3 linked regions of the Homo sapiens genome follow. The protein of the gene in region 1 interacts with the protein of each later gene in a biochemical or structural test. Each region holds a gene or a part of one and is shown in the gene's direction. Other genes may lie near its edges. The genes, in order: EPS15, NAGPA and ABCA4.

The links.
Region 2: the proteins of EPS15 (region 1) and NAGPA form a complex in vitro, tested with the Homo sapiens proteins (one study listed by BioGRID).
Region 3: the proteins of EPS15 (region 1) and ABCA4 interact in a surface display test, tested with the Homo sapiens proteins (one large-scale study listed by IntAct).

Annotation. Positions count from the first base shown.
Region 1 is NC_000001.11:51,407,619-51,411,267, reverse strand, and holds part of EPS15 (epidermal growth factor receptor substrate 15), read left to right. Parts: intron 1-1,571; coding exon 1,572-1,733; intron 1,734-2,935; coding exon 2,936-3,133; intron 3,134-3,649. UniProt on the Homo sapiens protein: Involved in cell growth regulation. May be involved in the regulation of mitogenic signals and control of cell proliferation. Involved in the internalization of ligand-inducible receptors of the receptor tyrosine kinase (RTK) type, in particular EGFR.
Region 2 is NC_000016.10:5,027,566-5,031,010, reverse strand, and holds part of NAGPA (N-acetylglucosamine-1-phosphodiester alpha-N-acetylglucosaminidase precursor), read left to right. Parts: intron 1-517; coding exon 518-626; intron 627-2,002; coding exon 2,003-2,131; intron 2,132-2,825; coding exon 2,826-3,031; intron 3,032-3,117; coding exon 3,118-3,165; intron 3,166-3,445. UniProt on the Homo sapiens protein: Catalyzes the second step in the formation of the mannose 6-phosphate targeting signal on lysosomal enzyme oligosaccharides by removing GlcNAc residues from GlcNAc-alpha-P-mannose moieties, which are formed in the first step.
Region 3 is NC_000001.11:94,118,962-94,122,710, reverse strand, and holds the start of ABCA4 (retinal-specific phospholipid-transporting ATPase ABCA4), read left to right. Parts: upstream 1-1,562; 5' UTR 1,563-1,665; coding exon 1,666-1,731; intron 1,732-3,749. UniProt on the Homo sapiens protein: Flippase that catalyzes in an ATP-dependent manner the transport of retinal-phosphatidylethanolamine conjugates like 11-cis and all-trans isomers of N-retinylidene-phosphatidylethanolamine (N-Ret-PE) from the lumen to the cytoplasmic leaflet of photoreceptor outer segment disk membranes, where 11-cis-retinylidene-phosphatidylethanolamine is then isomerized to its all-trans isomer and reduced by RDH8 to produce all-trans-retinol.

The DNA of each region.
Region 1 (3,649 bases):
CTGCCTGGGCTTTAAAGGAATTTTTTAAAGAAAGCAACATGATATTTTTAGACTAACCAGTTGGTTAAGAAAATATAAGATAAAAAGCAATTATTGAAAGCATTGTTCAGTGTTCTATTTAATCACAGAAACATCTGCATATATTTGAAAAATAGTGACACATGTGAGACATTTAGTCTGCAGATGGTATGTCACATGGTGGTTAAGAGCTCAGGCTGTGGAGTCAGAACCCACTTTGAATCCATAGCTTACTATTTTTAACTTTGGACACATTACCTACACATCAGTACTTCAGTTTTCTCATCTGTAAAATATGAAATGATATCAGTACCTAACTCGTAGATCTGTCATATAGACTATAAATAAGTTAGTATATTTAAAGAGCCTAGAGCACAACCTAGCACATTTTAAGTAGCATTTAAAGTGTTGGCTATTATCATAATGGTGCTATCTTGTGTAACCTATGCAGTAATTCAGAGACCTTTTACCTGTAAGTTTCTCTTCTGTTCTTAGATTCTTATTCTGGTGAATGACTGTTGGGACCTTTGAATAGATATTATTTTTAGAAATTTGTGTTCAGTTTTACCTCACCCGCTTTGAAATCTTTGCCTACCTCCTGCTGACAGATACTTCGGAGTTATTAATCCCTGAGCCACTGCGCCTGGCTTTTTAAAAATTTCTGTAGTTCTTGTTATTAAGCATGAGGTCTGGTATGTACATGGATGAATAAATAACATTTTCAAAATGGTTCTTTTTTTGTTTTAAGAAATCTTTTCCTACACTGAGATCTGCATTTCTTCTACACATTTTAAAGTTAGACTTTTACATTCAGGTCCATTATTTACCTGGAATTAATTTTTCTTTTTTTTTTTTTTGGAGACAGTGTCTCACTCTGTTGCCCAGTCTGGGCATGCTGTGGCATGATCACAGCTCACTGCAGCCTTGACCTCCTGGGCTCAAGAGATCCTCCCATCTCAGCCTCCCAAGTAACTGGGACCACAGGCACGTACTACCACGTCCAGCTAATTTTTTTTTTTTTGAGATGGAGTTTCACTCTTGTTGCCCAGGCTGGAGTGCAATGCATGATCTCGGCTCGCTGCAACCTCCACCTCCTGGGTTCAAGCAATTCTCCTGCTTTAGCCTCCCGAGTAGCTGGGATTACAGGCATGCGCCACCACGCCCAGCTAAATTTTTTTTTTTTTTTTTGCATTTTTGTTAGAGACAGGGTTTCTCCATGTGGGGTTTTTTTTTGACCAGAGAATCTGAGAGGGGAAAGATTGAGCTTAAAACAGATTTGTGGGGAAATTCCAGGAGTTCTATTTTCAACATGTTAGCAAAGCCCATCACATGTCCAAGGACAGATTTGAGTTAGCAAATTGAATATCTAAATATGGATTCTAGGAAAGATGTCTTCAAGTAAAGATTGTATTTAAAGCTGTTAAGTACCCTAGTCTCATCAACACAGTATACTCAGTAAGACTTTATTCTTTCTTAAGGTAGATTTAAAATTACTAACTTAACCCTCCCCTGCCCGCAAAGAAAATAAATATATTAATTTTCTTGGATTTTAGGATCTTCAAGATGAAGTTCAAAGGGAGAATACTAATCTGCAAAAACTACAGGCCCAGAAACAGCAGGTACAGGAACTCCTTGATGAACTGGATGAGCAGAAAGCCCAGCTGGAGGAGCAACTCAAGGAAGTCAGAAAGAAATGTGCTGAGGAGGCCCAACTGGTAATGTCTGGCTGTTTCCTGCTGCCTGCACCTATACATTAGTTGCTTTTCCTGGCTTAAGATGAAAACATTCTCTACTTTTTGTTATTGATGGTGGTGGTTGGCAATCCAGTCAGCATTTGGGTTCATGGGGGCGATGGAGCAAGGTTCATCCAGAAATTACAGGCCTTCTTTAGAGGAAATAGAAGGGCAGTTAATGAACTGTTTTTCCAAATTTTTGTTGGAAATATGGTGCCTATACCTTCAACTCTCCTCTGTCCCTCCCCCAGTTACCCTTCTTTACGAAAACCATACATCAAAAAACATCATAATTGGCTGGGCACAGTGGCTCACACCTGTAATCCCAACACTTTGGGAGTCTGAGGCGGGGGGAATTGCTGGAGCCCAGGAGTTGGAGACCAGCCTGGGAAACATGGAGAAATCCCATCTCTACAAAAAATATGAAAGCTGGTTGGGTGCAGTGGCTCACGCCTTTAATCCCAGCACTTTGGGAGGCCGAGGCAGGCGGATCACGAAGTCAGGAGATCGAGACCACGGTGAAACCCCGTCTCTACTAAAAATACAAAAAATTAGCCAGGGCGGTGGCGGGTGCCTGTAGTCCCAGCTACTCGGCAGGCTGAGCCAGGAGAATGGTGTGAACCCAGGAGGCGGAGCTTGCAGTGAGCTGAGATCACGCCACTGCACTCCAGCCTGGGCAACAGAGCGAGACTCTGTCTCAAAAAAAAAAAAAAAAAAAATTGAAAGCCAGGCGTGGTGGCCCACATCTGTAATCCCACCTACTCGAGAGGCTGAGGTGAGAGGATCACCTGAGCCTGGGAAAGTTGAGCCTGAAGTCTGAAGTGAGCTGTGATCGTGCCATTGCACTCCAGCCTGGGTGACAGAGTGAGACTGTCTCAAAAAAATAAAACATCAACAACAACAACAACATCAAAAACTCCATAATAGGGCTAGGTATGGCTGGGCATGTTCCTATAGTCCCAGCTACTCAGGAGGATCACTTGAGCCCAGGAGTTTGAATCCAGCCTGGGCAACATAGCAAGACTCTCTCTCTCAAAAATTAAATTAAATAAATTATTTGCTATTGCTGTCAAAAAAAACACCAAAATAGTAAACTAAACAAATAAATGTATTGCATTTTGGAACATTTTAATGACATCTCTTCTTTTAATCCCCATTTCTTCTCATTCACTTTCACATTATAGATCTCTTCTCTGAAAGCTGAATTAACTAGTCAGGAATCGCAGATCTCCACTTACGAAGAAGAATTGGCAAAAGCTAGAGAAGAGCTGAGCCGTCTACAGCAAGAAACAGCAGAATTGGAGGAGAGTGTAGAGTCAGGGAAGGCTCAGTTGGAACCTCTTCAGCAGCACCTACAAGATTCACAACAGGAAATTAGTTCAGTAAGTCTTTGTAAAGCAAGAAATATATTCAAATGGATCCTCTGTGTCCTTTAGTCAGTTATACTTTCCAACTTCTGCTCCTTCAACCTCTTGCCTAGTTTACTGTTCATTTTTCAGTCATTTTATACAATAGGTTTTTTTGTCACCTGTTATATATTGAAACTATCATACATCTTGTATATCTATCTGATGATTATCATTGGAGTAGTGATTAAGAGTGTGGGCTTTGTGGCTAGATGGTCTAGGTTTAAGTACTGGTGTGCCACTTACTAGCTAAATCACCTTAGTATCAGATTCTTCATCTTCAAAATTGGAGGATTAATAAATACCCTACCCCTTAGGGCCACTGTGAGGATTAATGAGGCAAAACCTGTAAGACATTTTAGCATGGTGCTTGGTACATAAATGCTCCATAAGTGTTGCCTGTTTTATAAACAATAACCTAGTTTCTTCTGTTTTGTGATTCTAATTTTGAATTCACATTTGCTAATTTGGAAACTTTTTTCTTAAGGAAAT
Region 2 (3,445 bases), on another chromosome or scaffold:
TTGCAGTGAGCTGAGATCATGCCACTGCACTCCAGCCCGGGCAACACAGCGAGACTCTTTGTCTCAAAAAAAAAAAAAGAGTGGGCGGTCAAGGAAGGCCTCACTAAGGAGGTGATCTGACAAAGGAGCAAGCTAGAGAAAAGCACAGTTCCCAGCCAGAGGGAACAGGAAGTGCAAAGTGGCTGCAGGGTGGTGAGGGGACACCCAGGAGCTGAGGCAGGAGGAGGAAGAGGCTGGGGAGGGCATGCTGGCTCTTTGGATTTTGTTCTAAGAACAGGGGAAACCATTAGAGGGTCTTCACCTGGAGGCTGGCATAGCTTGGTTTACCTGTAAGAAGAGACCCCCCGGCTGCCCTGGGGAGACTGGGATGTGCAGAGGGGAGGCAGGGAGACGAGCAAGGAGGCTGCTGTGCTTCCCAGGGAGGTACCAGGTAGCTCAGACCAGTGGGAAGTGGAGTTAGGCAAGAAGCAGGAGGCCTCCCAAGGGGCGGTGATCAGCCAGGCTGCTTTTCCTTCAGGTTCCTTTAGCAAATTTGTGAATGTGATATCAGCCAGGACGGCCATTGGCCACGACCGGAAAGGGCAGCTGGTGCTCTTTCATGCAGACGGCCAAACGGAGCAGCGTGGGTGAGTCCTGGGAGCTGAGGCCCCCCGGCCGGGGCTCAGTCCTGCTAGGAGGAACGTTGACCCAATGACAGCCACCCTCTGACTCTACCTGCTTTCTGGGATGTTGACACCTATCTGTCCCCCCTCCCAGGGCCCCCTCACCTTCCCACAGGATGAGGGTTCTGAGATCTTTGCCGATTCCAAGAACTCATCATCTTCAGCTTTAGGCCTCACCTTTCCTGAACCCTAGATAGGATACAAGGAAATGGTCACAAAGTGAGCAGGGAGAAGATCTTGGTTCCAATCCCAGCTTAGCCATCGATGACTTGTCTACCCACCTATGCCGTAGACAAGTCCCTCGGCCTCCCTGAGCCTCATTTCTAGCCCCTGTAAAGAGAGTGTTTTGGTTTGCTCTGGTTGCATAACCAGCACAAATTTAGCAACACTCAGCAGGGAATGTTCTTTTGTTTGTTTGTTTCTTTGAGACAGGGTCTTACTCCGTCGCCCAGGCCAGAGTGCAGTGGTGCAATCTCAGCTCACTGCAACCTCTACCTCTCAGGTTCAGGTGATCCTCCCACCTTAGCCTCCCAGGTAACTGGGATTACGGGCACCCGCCACCACACCCAGCTAATTTTTGTATTTTTAGTAGAGATGGGGTTTCATCATGTTGGCCAGGCTGGTCTCGAACTCCTGACCTCAGGTGATCCATCTACCTCGGCCTTCCAAAGTGCTGGAATTAACAGGCGTGAGTCACCGCACCTGGCTAATTTTTGTATTTTTAGTAGACACAGGGTTTCATCATGTTGGCCAGGCTGGTCAACTTGGAATGTTCTATGTTCAGGGTGTCCCATGGACAAAACCAAGATGCTGGTTAGGCAGGGCTCTTCTCTTATCTGGAAAGAATCCTCTTGTTTAGGTTGTTGGAAGAATCCCCGTCGCCTCCTCAGTTGTGACTGAGGTCTTGGTTTCCCTGCTGGCCGCCATCTGGGGCCTCAGCTCCTTCAAGCTGCCCAGGTTCCTTCCCATGTGTGTCCTCTCCCCCAGTTGTCCGGCCACCCTCTCATCCCCCTCGTATTTCAAATCTCACTTCCTATTCTGTCACCAGCCAGAGAAGGCTCTCTGTGTTGAACACTCCTGTGATTCCAGTGGCTGCACCCAGATCCTCCGGGCCGTTTCCCCTCCCTTAAGGATTCCTATGCCATGTAACAGCACAGGCATGGGTGTGATCTCACGTGTTCACAGCTTCCGGGGGCTAGGATGAGACATGCTTGGGGGCGGGGGCCACTTAGAAATGTGCCTGCACTGTGGGCGTGATGCTCTGCACTGTGGAAGGAAAAGGAGTTAAATGAGAAATGATGGTGGGCGCTGAGCCTGAGCAGCGCCGCTTTGTGCCGCAGCATCAACCTGTGGGAAATGGCGGAGTTCCTGCTGAAACAGGACGTGGTCAACGCCATCAACCTGGATGGGGGTGGCTCTGCCACCTTTGTGCTCAACGGGACCTTGGCCAGTTACCCGTCAGATCACTGGTAAGCACGTGAGAGCCGCCTTCGTGAGGGCTGAAGTCCAGGTCTGCCCCAGCCTGTCTCATTCAGCCAATATTGAGTGCCTGCTATGTGCCAGGCCCCGGGGGTTCAAGAGAGCAGAAATTGCTGCAGTCCCTCCCCCAGGATGCCAGTACTACCCAGGCCTAGGAGCAGGGTCAGTTGGTCAGCAAAGACCTCCCTGAGGATGACAGAATAAGAACTGAGATCTGAAGGAGGTGGTAGCTGGGTGGGGGTGGGAGAGCCTTCCGGGCAGAGGGCACCACATGTGAAAGGCCCAGGGCTGGGAGGGATTGTAGGGAGCGGAGGAACCTATAAAAGACTGGAGAGGGCTGGGCACAGGGGCTCACGCCTGGAATCCCAGTGCTTTGGGAGGCCGAGGTGGGAGGTTCGCTTGGGCCCAGGAGTTTAAGACCAGTGTGGGCAACATAGACCCTGTCTTTATGAAAAAATAAAAAAAAATTAGGCAGGCGTGATGGTGCACACCTTACGGTTACAGCTGCTCAGGAGGCTCGGGTGGAAGGATCGCAATACCTCATCTCAAAAATAGATAGACGCCATCTTGTAGGTAGGTAGGTAGACAGGTGAGAATGGAGAGAGGGGTGGTTGGGGGCAGCCTGGAGGGAGTTGAGGGGCCGTCTGGGGGTGTCCTCTCCTCACACATCACATCCCTCTACAGCCAGGACAACATGTGGCGCTGTCCCCGCCAAGTGTCCACCGTGGTGTGTGTGCACGAACCCCGCTGCCAGCCGCCTGACTGCCACGGCCACGGGACCTGCGTGGACGGGCACTGCCAATGCACCGGGCACTTCTGGCGGGGTCCCGGCTGTGATGAGCTGGACTGTGGCCCCTCTAACTGCAGCCAGCACGGACTGTGCACGGAGAGTGAGTGGGGGTTCTGGGGAGGGGGCTCTGCCCAGCCCTGCCTTGCCCTAGGCCCTCACCTGGCCTCCCCGGTCTTGTCTCGGCAGCCGGCTGCCGCTGTGATGCCGGATGGACCGGGTCCAACTGCAGTGAAGGTAGGAGCTGCCACGCCACTAGCGGATGGGGAGACGGTGGCCCCCGGCAGCCCCCACTGCTCCTCTGCTGCTTCTGTCTCCACCTTCTGGTCTGGGAAATGCTTGCCTCTTGTCTTCTGCCCCGGCCTCACCTGCACATCACTGTGTGACTCCCCTGTGGCTGCTGCGGCCCGTTCCACAAAGGGCTCGGCTAAAACAAGGGTCCCCGGGCTCTGGCTCCAGGGCCCACCTCAAATCCAGCACGGTCTTATCTTGAGATCCTAACTGCAGTGCCTCTGTA
Region 3 (3,749 bases), about 43 Mb from region 1:
ATCATCTTCAGCATGATAAAACCCATATCCTTTAGCATGTAACAAGGTCTTAATGATTCTGCCAGAGCTTGCTTGGGGGTAGCCTGCACTTGTGGGCCACTCCAGTCACTTCACAGGTGCTCAGTAAATCTCAGTTGAATCAGTCATCATCATCATCATCATCATCATCATCATCATCATCATCAATTTTTCAGTCTGGTTCCTGTCTCCTTTTCCAGCATCCTCCATTCATAGCCTCATAGCCTTCACTCCAGCCATGTTTCACTTGTGGTTTTCCTGGGCAAGATAAGCTATTCCTCCCTGTCTTTGCAGAGTTTAAATGACTCACTTGTTCAAGTACCCACCGTTGCCATGTGGGACCGTGAGCAAAGTACTTAATCTCACTAAGCTTCACGTTCCTCATCTGTAAAACAGCAAATATGGACCTCACAAAATTGTAGTGAGGCTAAAATGAAATAACATATGCAAAAGCAGTTTATAAATAATAAACTTACTATAAAATATTATTTTGTAATTCTGCAAGCTTGTCTTAAATGCCATCACCTCCAAGGAGCCTTTTTGCCATCATAAGCAGAAACTATCTCTCTCTTCTTGGAAGCTCCACCATGCACAGCCTATGGGCCCTCATCACACTCCTTGAGTTATTCGAGTTCAAGTCCCGTGTTTACAACCAGACCGCAAACTCTATGAAGTCAGCATCCATTCCTCTCTGTGGTTCTCCCTCCGCCCCATCCAGGTCTCAAGGGTCTAGAGTCTTTCAAAGAGAACACATTCTGAGATTTGAGGAGGCAGAGACAAAAAGTTCCACTGCGAAGTGCCAGGGAGGCTTCTGTTTGGGGTGTCCCTTGGGATCACAGATCCCCCACCTGGTGATGAGTCAACCCAGCACCACCCCATTGCAGGGCTGGAATGACAGTAATGGGCCCACCTGCTGCCTCTCCTCATACCCGCACCCCAGTCAGACATTGCAAGTCAGTCACGGCTCTGTCCTGCTGGGCCTGGAGTGTTCCAGTGCCTTTTCCATCACAGCACCAAGCAGCCACTACTAGTCGATCAATTTCAGCACAAGAGATAAACATCATTACCCTCTGCTAAGCTCAGAGATAACCCAACTAGCTGACCATAATGACTTCAGTCATTACGGAGCAAGATAAAAGACTAAAAGAGGGAGGGATCACTTCAGATCTGCCGAGTGAGTCGATTGGACTTAAAGGGCCAGTCAAACCCTGACTGCCGGCTCATGGCAGGCTCTTGCCGAGGACAAATGCCCAGCCTATATTTATGCAAAGAGATTTTGTTCCAAACTTAAGGTCAAAGATACCTAAAGACATCCCCCTCAGGAACCCCTCTCATGGAGGAGAGTGCCTGAGGGTCTTGGTTTCCCATTGCATCCCCCACCTCAATTTCCCTGGTGCCCAGCCACTTGTGTCTTTAGGGTTCTCTTTCTCTCCATAAAAGGGAGCCAACACAGTGTCGGCCTCCTCTCCCCAACTAAGGGCTTATGTGTAATTAAAAGGGATTATGCTTTGAAGGGGAAAAGTAGCCTTTAATCACCAGGAGAAGGACACAGCGTCCGGAGCCAGAGGCGCTCTTAACGGCGTTTATGTCCTTTGCTGTCTGAGGGGCCTCAGCTCTGACCAATCTGGTCTTCGTGTGGTCATTAGCATGGGCTTCGTGAGACAGATACAGCTTTTGCTCTGGAAGAACTGGACCCTGCGGAAAAGGCAAAAGGTAACAGTTACTGTCTGTGGTTTAAAAATGAGGTGTGGAGCAAATAAACAGGTTGGAAGTGTGGGGTGGGGTGGTGGGGTAGGGTGGTGGGGCAGGGTGGGGGGTTGTGAGCAGTCAGTGGGCTTGTCGCCGATTAGCACTGAAGCAGTGTTTAGCTGGACGGCCTTTCTGTGGGCCCCTCTGACAGTGCCCTTCCCAGGAAGATGTGTTTCTCTGTCCTCAGCCACATGAAAATCTTTTGCCTACCGTGCCTGTCAATCCATTGCCTGCCCGCCCCTCCCCCACCCCCCGTTTTACACCTGCCTGTCCAGTCTACCGCTCTCTAGGGCATCCACGCTGAGCAGTGGGAAGAACTTTAAGCCCTGAAGAGCAGGCCAAAGGCAAGCAAGAACCCCCTCGAACAGCTTCCCAGCTTAGTGAGGCCTTATTTCATTGATTCTCTGAGGCACATTGTTTTTTCACATGTTAGCATTTCTGAAATTGGGATGCAGCTCACGATCAAGTCACAGTTTAACTGGACACATTATTTTTCTTTCTTAGTGGTGCAGAAAAGTAACAGTGTGTCTTACAATTGACTGCGTCCTAGATTCTGTGAGATGCAATACGTTATTAACCATCACGCACATTTCCTGAACTCTTTCAATGAGCAGACACCAGCCTGGGTTAGACTGGAGCCCTAAAAGCACGACACAGATTCCACCCTGGACTGGCTTCTGTTCTGCCTGGGAAAACCCAAAGTACGTTTGGAGACCAAGAGCAACATAAAGTAGCATAGGTGGAATAGTCCATGAGAAGTGCGAGCAAAAGGTGCCGGAGATCAGAGAACACCAAGACTGTACTTGTAAATGACAACTGGCTTTGTGCAATTTTTTCTGGGAAAGGATAAGGAGTGACTATAGAACTGTAAAGAAAGAATGCACTTTGCTACAGCCTTGCAGAGTTGTGCAAATGCCGATGACTAAAGGAGCTGAAAGAGGAAGGAGGGGATAAGGGATGGGGGCTGGGTAGGGGTGAGATTAGGACCCTGGGAGCTGCAAGCCACTGGAGAGATCAGGAGGAAAGGGAGGGAGACCTGCTTTAGGCGAGAAGAGAACAGTATTTGTTCCAAATCTCGGTTCAGAATAAGTTCATGTAGGTGATGGGGCCAACTGGAACAGGTGAAGGCCTATGAATGAGTGTCTCAGTTAGGGTCTCCTTAGAGTTTAATATGAAAAGGTGTTAGCTAAGTACAGAGCTGGTACCTGAGAGAGTAAAAGGAAACTCTAAGGTATCATGGAGGTAGCAATTGCAGGACACAGCTCCCACCCCTAGGGCTGAGAGAACCAAGGGAAGAGACAGGAATTATTAAGACTTGGAGCATAGATGAGAGGTCTGTGGAGCTGACATTAGGACTTGGGAGGAAGGCGTGCATGGAGGCTGCTGCTGGATCTCTGAACCTGACCTCGGGTCTGGACCCCTGAGGAGAAAGCCCTGGCAGGTTGGTGCATGTGGGGCCGAGGGACAATAGCTTAACAACCAGCATAAAAGAGAGCAGCATGGGACACGCTTCAACCATGCGCATGGATGGCTCCAAAACCTGTGTGTGGCTGGCCCAGGACGCAGGGAGGCTGCAGGGGGAAGAGACAAGTTAAACCTGACTTGTCTGGGAAGCACCATTGTCCTCAGGTCACTTTCCTCTGTCAAGCCTGGTGCTGAAGTTATCTGTTGTCTCCAGGGGCCAAGTATTAAGAGTAATCAGAAACTCAGTCCTTTCTTCTAGGAGCTTCCCTTCTTGCATGAAAATCCTGATAAAACTGGAAAAAAAAACCTCATGATTAAATTTTTTCATGTATTCATTCTTTCCTTCTATCAAAAAATAATCTCCAGGCACCGTGCTAGGTTCATTGGTATACAATGGCAACAAGACCTCCCAGCCCCTGCCTATGTGAGGCATCTGTGGACTGCGGAGGAAAATCCAATATGCCATTGTTCTCTCTTTCCCATAAGAAATTACAATTCTCAGTTCATTTTATTCTCAC